Homo sapiens: one gene and its partner. The protein of the gene in region 1 purifies or fractionates together with the protein of each later gene. This does not show direct contact. Each region holds a gene or a part of one and is shown on either strand. Other genes may lie near its edges.

Region 1 (5,248 bases):
CTAGTTTTAATCTTTTGGACTCTCTAAATGTGAAGTATTTTTGAACAGGTATGCAATAGATTAAAGTAACAAGTAAAAGTTTGGTATAAGTCTACTTTTCATTCAAAACTCGATTTAGGTATCTTTAAACTTGTTGCAGTGGGAGAAAATGGTAAAACAACACAAGAAATAGGCTCTGCCCTCCAGGAATTTAAAATCCAGTTGATACATATAAATATGGAAAGTTAGTTGTTATTAAAAAGCAGTATGTAAATAGCCATTCTTGTTTGTCACTTATTTATTCTTCTTTTTCTGAAATACAGACTGGATAAAAGTCAATATTTTAAAAATTATTCATTATGATTTTAAGCTTAGACTTTTAAGCTTAGAAATTCCAGTCATACAGAATTTTGAAAACATTACCTTCTATTTTTAAATGTTTAACTTTTTTTTTTTTTTTTTTTTTTTTTGAGCAACAAGGCTGTTTATTTCACCTGGGTGCAGGCGGGCTGAGTCCGAAAAGAAGAGTCAGCGAAGGGGAGATAGGGGTGAGGCCGTTTTATAGGATTTGGGTAGGTAAAGGAAAATTACAGTCGAAGAGGGTAATTCTCTGGCAGGCAGGAGTGGGGGTCACAAGGTGCTCAGTGGGGGAGCTTTTTGAGCCACGATGAGCCAGGAGAAGGACTTTCACAAGGTAATGCCATCAGTTAAGGCAAGGACTGGCCATTTTCACTTCTTTTATGGTGGAATGTCATCAGTTAAGACAGGAACAAGCCATTTTCACTTCTTTTGTGATTCTTCAGTTACTTCAGGCCATCTGGGCGTATATACGTTCAGGTCACAGGGGATGCGATGGCTTAGCTTGGGCTCAGAGGCCTGACAGTCCTGCCTTCTTACAGTAATAAGAAAAATAACATAAAATAGTATTGAAGTGTTGGGGCAGCGAAAAAAAAATTTGGGTGCGGGGGGTAGCATGGAGAGATAATGGGCGATGTTTCTCAGGGCTTCTTCGAGCGGGATTAGGTGTGGCGTGGGAACCTAGAGTGGGAGAGGTCAACTTGCAGGAGGATTTTGTGGTAAGGGGTGATATTGTGGGGTTGTTGGAAGGAGCATTTGTTGTATAGAATGATTGGTGATGGCCTGGATACGGTTTTGGATGAATTGAGAAACTAAACGGCAGATACAAGGTCCGAATAAAAGAAGGAGAAAAATAGGTATTAAAGGACTAAGAATTGGGAGGACCCAGTACATCCAATTAGAGAGTGTCCAAGGGCGTTCAGCATAATTACTTGCTTGGTTGGCAAGTTTTTGGACCCTATCCTTGAGTTTTCTTATGTTGTCATACACCAGGCCAGATTGATTTAGGTAAAAACAACACTCTTCATTTAAGAATATACAGAGTCCTCCTTTTTCAGCAGTGAGTAAGTCAAGGCCTCGGTGGTTTTGGAGGATAACTGCAGCTAAAGAGTCAACTTGGGCCTGGAGGACTGATAAAGTTTGTGATATGTCTGTGATGCTAGCAGAGAAGACACTAGAGAGGCTATGGAAGGTCGTGACAGAGGTTGAAATGCCTCCTATTCCAGTACCGAGAGCAATAGTGGAGGCAGAAAGTCCTAAACCAACAAGCAAGGGAATTAGTGGAATAACTCTTTTTTGTCGTGTTGGTGTCATGAGGGGAACAGGGAGCTCTTCGGTCCTATTTGCAAATTGAATTTTGGGAGTAAGGAAAACTAGTGTGCATGTACCTGTCCAATTAGCAGGTAGACACATGGAGGTAGAGGATCCACAGAGGAAGAAGAGACCTTGTGCGAGGCAAAACTGGAGATGCAAAGTAAAAAGATGAGGAGTGCTGAAAGGGGTGTCTTGTACCCAGACTCCTGGGGATCCAGCTAGGGCGGCAGCCACCAGAGGTTGTAATGGGGACTGGTGGGGTAACTGCGTAGAGGGGGAGGTTCGATTTTCATGGTATATGAGAAAATGTTGAGTGTCTATGAGCTACCTTTCACTGTTATTTTCGGGGCTGGGTATAAGTAAACAAGAAGAGGGCCTGGGAGGAGGGTCTGATGAGCAAGGGGAAGGTAGCCGAGGATGGAGTGAAATACAGGGTAAGTGTCTTCCTAAGCAATAATTACTGCTAATATTTTTAAGTTTGCCAGTATTGATAGAGGGCTTTTCTGTAATACGGAGCTGGAAGGCTCCAATTGTTTCGGTGACATGCATAGCTGGACTTTGGAGATGAAGAGTAAAGGAACATGGAGAAGGTGAAGGGTTACTAGGGGAATTCCAGTGGGTCTTTGCCGAGAGATACATAAAGGAGTGGCCACAGGAATAGGAATAGTAGTTTGTGTTGTGAGAGGTCCAAATATGGGGGGAGTAGAGTTGATATAAGGAGAAAGGTTTTTTAAGTAAGTGTGGAGGAGGGCGGCAGCTTGCTGATATGAAATGTCTGGGGAGGTCTTGCTGGACCTGTCTAGAAAGTAAATGAGTTCTTCAGGAGGGTAAAGGTGAGGGCTGTTAAAGGAAGTTCAGAGGTATAGGGAGACAGATGTTGCCCAGTCTACATGTAAGGTGGGGGCAGCTGTGTAGGCGCTGGAAGAAAGGGAAATGCAAAGCCAGCAGTTGTTCAATAAGGAGAGATTAGAAATGGCTAGGAGAGAATAAGTAACGTTGGTAGTGTGGTGGAGATAGCTGGGGAGAGGTAGAGGGTGACATAAGAATGGGAATGATCCCTTCATTCTATTAGGTCTGTTTGTCCTTACCCTACTTTTTGCAACAGGGCTTTACGAAGTTACCCCCACTACTTGGACCGAGCCCCAAAAACTAGTCATCCCTACTATCTTCTGTCTAGTCATACTCCTATTCACCATTCTCAACTACTTATAAATGCCCTACTCTTGTTTACACTGCCGGTTTACACTGTTTTTCCAAGCCATCACAGCTGATATCTCTTGGTGCTATCCCCAAACCGCCAGTCTTAACTCCCTCTTAGAGTGGATAGGTGATCTTTGCTGGCAGGGGACCCTCCAATACTTCCACCCTGATGAAGTTCTATTCTTTACTTTTAAGTTTAACTTTTTGATACTTAACTGATCATTTTGACATTTGTTTTATTGTATGAGATGATATATTATGACTTTCCAGATAAATGTATAATTATTATAAAAGGATTTTTTTCTAATCTACTAGTTCGTATTTCCTCCTTTATCATACGTGAAAATTTTATATATTTTATGTTCTACTTATTGACACTGTCTTCATTTGGCTTATCTGTCTGTTTTACAGGTATATTTCCCAAACTAATAGATATTGTAGCTTTACCTCATATTTTATTGTCTCCCTATCTGTAATGTCTGTCACTGTGTTGGGTATCATTGCAATGACACCTTAGAAAAATTAAGGCGGCTTTGGTAGGTAAACATGGAATCATGTACATGGCAGTAAACATTAATTAAAGTAGGTATAAATACTGTATATTGAGCTACAATATATTTATTTCCTATTCCTTTTCTTAGCTGAGGTACAATTCAAAATTTGAACCTTTAAAAGTAAACAATTTCATGATGTTTAGAACCTTCAAACGTTGTGAACTACCATGTTTATCTAGTTGAAAAACTTTTCCCAAAAATAAATCCCTTACATACCCAACAAGCAAATCACTCTCCATTCTCTCTCCCCTTAGCCTCTGACAACTACAAATCTTCTTTCGGTCTATATGGATTTACCTATTCTGGATTTTCATGGAATAGAATCACACAATATTTGGCCTTGGGCTTCTTTCACTTAGCATAATGTTTTTAAAGTTCATCCACATTTTATTCCTTTTTATGGGTGAATAATAGTCCATTGTGCATGTATATCTATAAATATAGATACATATATACTTATATGTATCTCTATATCTATAAATACATATATATTTATATGTATCTCTATATCTATAAATATTTATAGTTTTATGTATATCTGTAAATATAGATATGCACAATGTTTGTGTGTGCAGAGCTTAAAGGTCAGCCAAAGGTGAGATCTTAGGACCTTTTCAGGTAATTTCTGAGCATGCATCCAGCTCAGGGCTTGTGCCTGGCCTTCCAGATTTTCAGGATTATGTGGGAGCTTTCCAAAGTCCTTATTCATGAAACAGCTCATTCCCCGGCTTTTCCTCTCAAGCTTTTCAGTCAGTCCTATTGTTTGTTCCAACTGTTATACCTTGCCTCATGTGACAAAAGCTAACACATTCAACTTAACTTTTACAAACATCGTTTGGTAGCCTCAAGGCAGATATCTAAGTCTTCTTTACTGGCAGTGATATCTACTGCTAAAACAATTCAAGAGTCCATAGGTGCTCTGGATTTCATAGAAACTCATGAAAAACAAACTCAGTTACATGTTGTCTGCTAATTCTACAAATAACACCTCACCTGACTTGAATCAAAATTACTACTGATAGCAAGGCCACCTCTTTGCTAGGCCAAACAAACCACCTACAGCCAGGCCCCTGCTTCAGGGTGAGCCCTGAGAACAAGAGAGTTTATATCGGACCCCAAAAGACAAGTGGGTCCCAGGTTGGATAATCTCCGGTAAATTGGTGAAACAATTACAATACTTACTAGGGTTACATGACAACAGTGCCAGTCTACTCCTTAGCTTCTGGAGGCAATCTTTCCTTCTGCACCTCCCTCTGTATCCATGAACGGCAGGATCCTGCTCCCACATAGGGATATGGTGAGCATGCAAGCAGGCCTCTTCTAGTAGACATCCACTCTTTTACCATATTAATTGAGGTTGAGTCTTCAAAAAATAAACAACTTTGACTGGCTCTGACTGACTTTTAGACATGAATGCCCAAATTCCTCTTATTCCAGGAAGCACTCATAAGTTAAAGTGATTTTTCTGGGGGGGTGAATAGCTTTGAGGAAGGGTAAATTAAAGAGGCAATTCCCTGCTCAACTATTAAAATTGGCCCCATTTTGCTAAAAGATGCTTTCATCCCGGTTGTCCCCCAAGACTATTCCTTTGTTCATCCTTGAAATGGACCTTCTCAGTCAGCACGTGATCTCATGGAAAGCTTTTACACTATTGGCGGGCACCACGTAGTGGAAAACAGTCAATCTTCCCTGCCAGTGTGAGTGGTAAATGCTCCAAGATACCAACCAAGGCAAAGAACTGCAGGATTGTGGTCTGTTATAGCTGACTTTGTCAAAGGAATTCTATTTTTTACCATGTTGCCTTTTAACTTCCTGGTGTGGCCTATGTTTAAAGCCACTACTAG
Region 2 (5,248 bases), on another chromosome or scaffold:
TGTGACCTGACCTTCTCCTTCCCAAAGCAAAGAGATGGTTAAAACTCACTCTTGAAATTTTTTTGTTGACTTTTCCTTGTGTTGCTTATTCATTCCTCGGCTCTACTTTTTGTCATTTTGGAGTGTATTTCTGGTAAGTGTTTAGGATTTTGTAAACTATTTCCCTACAACCTCTTATTGGAGGTAGGGGTAGAGTTGGGAATGACCATCAATCACATATAACTTTGTTTCTTATTTTGACTATCAGTCTTCAAAATTTATGGCAGGCCCTTTTATATTTGGTTGCTGCTAATAAAATGTTGGCCTTTTTGTTTTATTTTTTGTTTTTATTTTTTGTTTTATTAGATTTTGAAGAAGGGAGATTCTAAAATGTAGTTCAGGTTTTCTCAGTGTCAGCACAAATAACATTTTGGGTTGGATAATTATTTGTTGTGAGGGGGTTGCCCTGTGCAGAGTAGGATATTTAACAACATCCCTGGCTTCTACCCACTAGATGCCAGTAGCATTCCCCTAGTTAAGACAACCAAAAACATCTTCAGACATTGCCAAATATTCCCTGGGGAGAAAAGCACCCTGATTTGAGAGCCACTGATCAATTTTGTTCATTCATCTTTACTCCCCCTAAATACCTACATCCAAATTTTAAATAGATCTTTCTCATGTAGTCTGGCAAGTATTATATCAAAGATAAATACCAGTTTTAGAATAAAGCATTAATATACTCTTACATTTCAACTTAAGAGGCAAATATTAACAGTAGGATTTGTAAACTATTTATTGGAATAAAAATCAATGAATTTTTAAAAATTACAAAATGATTTATGTATGTTAGATATTTTACTGAGTGAAAAAATTCATGCTTTTTTAAATGACTTATTGTTTGGAGTAGTGATACAGTAGATTTAATTTCCCCCCTCATTAATTAAAATCATGTTTTAGCCAAGAAAGTGAACAAAATTCTTATTGGCAATTCAGTTGTTTCCCGTTTTGGAGACTGACACGCTCCAGTTCTAAGTTAAATAATTGTCATGGTAAAGTAATTTCCTTGAAAAGAACAGACATTGATTCAGCCCCTGTTACTCACAAATCCTATTTGAGTCAAATTGGAAAACTATTAAGTTTTTGGGAAAAAAATCAATAGGTATCAGGAAACCATTAGATCTTGTGGCCCTTGCTATATCTTGCATGAGTAATCACTGTAAACAGCTGACAGGTATTTCATTGTTGACACCGAGTGATGCTTGGGGGACCACATCTTGGCAGAGTAGGTGGACAGCTTTAGACGCTGGAATGAGTTTGATTATCCTTGTTTTTCTCCTACACTCATTCTTTTAGACAGCCCTGTCACTAACTGGGCCTGTGATGCTTTCAAAAATCAAATACTTTCCTTGCTGTCAGTTTTCTTTTTCTTGCGTTGTGGCATACTAATCAGGGTATGTGGTTTGGTACTGAACCAATTTCTGTCAAAAGCAAGTTTTAATTTATTATTTAGGAAAAATTTTTCCTAAGACCCAGGTTTTATACAGTACTAAATAAATAGTGTGAGGAATAATTAGTAATGCCATAGAGTATATAATTTTACTTCTAGTTCTACACAGATTACAAGTAAATTTTTTTTGGGCAAGTGATTTTGGAATTATCTATGTTTTGTTTTCCTTTTCCTTTAGAGTGATAATTCACTATTTATGATTGAATGATTATCATATTAAAGAGGTGAGAAAATAAAAATAAGTCTGATGTGCACAAAGCCATACTGCTCAAATTGTTTGATAATATCTGTTAATTAAATTATTATGGCATCGGTAGAAGAATGATGTTTTGTTTATATGTGGTTAGAATTGGTCTTTTTTAAAGGAAATAACAAGAGAGATGGAAATGGAATGGGTATAAATAGTAAAAGGTTCTATCACTATAATTCCCTTTTGCTATAAATAGTTAAAGCTTCTATCACTATAATTTCCATAAGAAGATATATGTGTTTACCTGTTAATTTTATCAGGGCAAATTAAAACATGGATAGAATCATGTTTCTCAGTGTGAAGAAATATTTTTATTTGATGAATATTATATATTTTCAGGTGCAGTGGCTTCTATGTTTTGGGTTGATGCTGAATTAGGGAGTGATATTTATCTTGATGGTAAGTTAAAAAACAGTTTTCTTTTATCTTTCTTGTTTTTTTTTTTTTTTCTGAGACAGAGTCTCACTTTGTTGCCCAGACTGGAGTGCATGGAGTGCAGTGGCATGATCTCGGCTCACTGCAACCTTTACCTCCTGGGTTCAAGTGATTCTCTTGCCTCAGCCTCCCGAGTAGCTGGGACTACAGGCGTGCACCATCGTACCTGGCTAATTTTTGGATTTTTAGTAGAGACGGGGTTTCGCCATGTTGGCCTGACTGGTCTTGAACCCCTGACTTCAGGTGATCCGCCAGCCTCGGCCTCCCAAAGTGCTGGGATTACAGGCGTGAGCCACCACACCCTGCCTCTTTTGTTTTTTAGTAAAATCTTTATGGTTAAGCTTATTGTTGTTGTTCATTCATATTATAACTTTAATTCCTTGCATTGTTGTTCTTTTCACACTTTAGTTTAATGATGAAATCTTTGTTCATATAGATTAAAAAACCCCAGACAGTGGTGGAACTCGATGTCACTCAACTTCCAATTTAGTGCTTCCACTAAGGTTTTCTTTAAAAAAAAAAATGCTTTGTAGGTTTTCTGTATCCTCTGTTGTTTGATTTATGCCCTTAATATAATGTTAGAGCCTTTTATTTTAATCCTCCAGGCAATATGAGGATCATATTTTTGCTTTTATTTTCTCTTGAAGATAAGAATTAAACACTCCTGTCTTACTTTATTTACCTGAACACTTTTGGGCAATGATATGCCTTCATTTAAAATATATTAGAAACTTTCTTAGTTAAGCGACTATGTTTTCTCCCTTTCTCAGTCGAAATTTTCTTACTTTTTCAAAAGTAATAATCATTAAGAAATTTAAGAATTATTAAGCTGGGCCCCATCATTGAGCTCTAATATATGTGGCGGGTAACTGGTTGAATTCCTTAGGCATAATTAAACTCATTCTTTTGTTATCAGCATATATTCAGAGATTGCAAAATGAATTGGTAGTTTGGAAACTTAGGCATATGTTATGTAGAACATTTATGAGTTGGATTTGGATTTGGTGAGAGATGTTAGGAATGATACCTTAAGATGTCTCATTCTTTAGGCAATAATTTAAATCTTAAGAAAAGTCTTGATTTTGATTATGTGAAAATAAACTAGAAATAACCTGTCTTATGTACTTATCACATTTGACTATGTTATGAAATTTGACTTATATTTTGGATTGTAAGCTTTTTCAGTGCCAAGGAAATCTTATTTTCTTATTTATTTAATTTAAAATTTTTATTTGTTTTATATCGTTTCTAGTGCCTTAAAATAGTGCTAGCCACTCAGGAAATGCATTGACTTATTACTGGAATTTAATTAAATGGCAGCACTGGCAAGAGAAAAAAACAGTACATTGTTTTATTGAGTAGTATTTGTGAACTGAAATAGGTTAGTTTTAATTTTCATTTTGAAGTATGGTTGTACAAATATTAATAAACATTCTTTTTAAAAAGTGATTAAAATGTTTTTTCCTTTGTAGGTATCATAACTATTGTGGATTCAAAATATGGATTAAAAGTAAGTTGAAAGATTGCTATGAGTGGGTCATTATTGAGAGCTGGGAATATGGGGATTGATTGTTTAATTTTCTTTATGTTTGTATCTGAAATTTTCTTTAACAAAAACCTTTCTCAAAAAGATATCCTGAACAATAGGTGAAATTTGTGTTTTAATTATTAGTTTGTGTTAAATATTTCTTTTCTATTACTCTGAGTTTGATTTGGTGATAAAATTTGGAATTATAATTTGTAATAAGCATATGGGGTTAGGGTAGAGTTTGGTATGTATAACTCTTCACAAGGATTCAACCCCAATATTGGTAAGTTTTTCTGTTCCATAGAAGAAGCTGAGCTTGATAAAGCATCTGAGATCTTATTTTTCTTGTTAAATTACTATTAAACACACACTGGAAATGAGTTTTTAAAAAATATTGAAGACCTAGGTGATGGGTTAATAGGTGCAGGAAACCACCATGGCACCCGTTTACCTATGTAACAAACCTGCACATCCTGAGCATGTACCCTGGAACTTAAAATTTAAAAAGTACATATTGAAGAAAATCAGGATATACACATAGGATTAGTAAGAAGACCCTCTCCATTAAAAGGCATCTTGCATCGCTTCTTGGTCTTTTGGCTAAGATGAAGTGTAAAAGACATCCTGCTATGAATGTTTTTGTTAACTTCTAAGGTCCTAGAATGCATTTAAATGAGGTTTAATTTATAAAATGCATTTAGTAAGATCTTTAAAAGTATGTTGTTACATACAGTAAAATGATGTTTCTCAACTTCCCAAGTGAAATACCACTAAAGGCAGAAAAGAATGAAATCATCCCACCCACTGACCCGTTCCCAATCTGAGCATATGGATAGGGCCCAAAGCAGTAAGTTCTTGGAAGTTTAAATTCAGTGTTTAAAAATTAGTGTCTGTTTTGTATCCAACCTCATATCTGAACGTGTTAATTTTTTTTTTTTTTTTTTTTGAGACAGAGTCTCACTCTGTTGCCCAGGCTGGAGTGCAGTGGCACCATCTTGGCTCACTGCAACCTCCACCTCCCAGGTTCAAGCGATTCCCTTGTCTCAGCCTCCTGAGTATCTGGGATTACAGGTGCACACCACCATGCCCAGCTAATTTTGTATTTTTAGTAGAGACAGGATTTTACCATGTTGACCAGCCTGGTCATGAACTCCTGACCTCAAGTGATCCACCCGCCTCGGCCTCCCAAAGTGCTGGGATTACAGGCATGAGCCACCACGCCCGGCCTGAACTTGTTAATGTTTAAGTTTGCTTTTTTTCCCCAAATCTTTGCTGAAATTATGCTCTAAGGGGATATGTCAGGTTTGTCAAATAGCTACCAATACCTCTTCACTGGGCCTTCTCTCCCTCGTTGATAGAGTGCCCTAATTTGAAAAGTTTGGAAGAAAACTCCTTTTTTAGAGTTTAAAATCTCAATTTATGAATTTATGAATATAATTTAAGAATCAAAGAATGATCCCAAATACAGTATTACAGTTTCATGCAGAAAAATTCCAATGACTGTTGGAAATCATATTTCTTGCAAAATGCTTATGGAGGTAGCAAA

The links.
Region 2: the proteins of KLRF1 (region 1) and ZNG1A purify together in Homo sapiens (affinity purification with mass spectrometry, with the first as the bait; 2 studies listed by BioGRID). This does not show direct contact.

The regions. Positions count from the first base shown.
Region 1 is NC_000012.12:9,833,478-9,838,725, forward strand, and holds part of KLRF1 (killer cell lectin-like receptor subfamily F member 1), read left to right. Parts: intron 1-5,248. UniProt on the Homo sapiens protein: Functions as an activating receptor involved in immunosurveillance upon binding to various ligands displayed at the surface of myeloid cells.
Region 2 is NC_000009.12:160,868-166,115, reverse strand, and holds part of ZNG1A (zinc-regulated GTPase metalloprotein activator 1A), read left to right. Parts: intron 1-1,667; exon of another isoform or gene 1,668-1,713; intron 1,714-2,078; coding exon 2,079-2,138; intron 2,139-3,646; coding exon 3,647-3,684; intron 3,685-5,248. UniProt on the Homo sapiens protein: Zinc chaperone that directly transfers zinc cofactor to target metalloproteins, thereby activating them.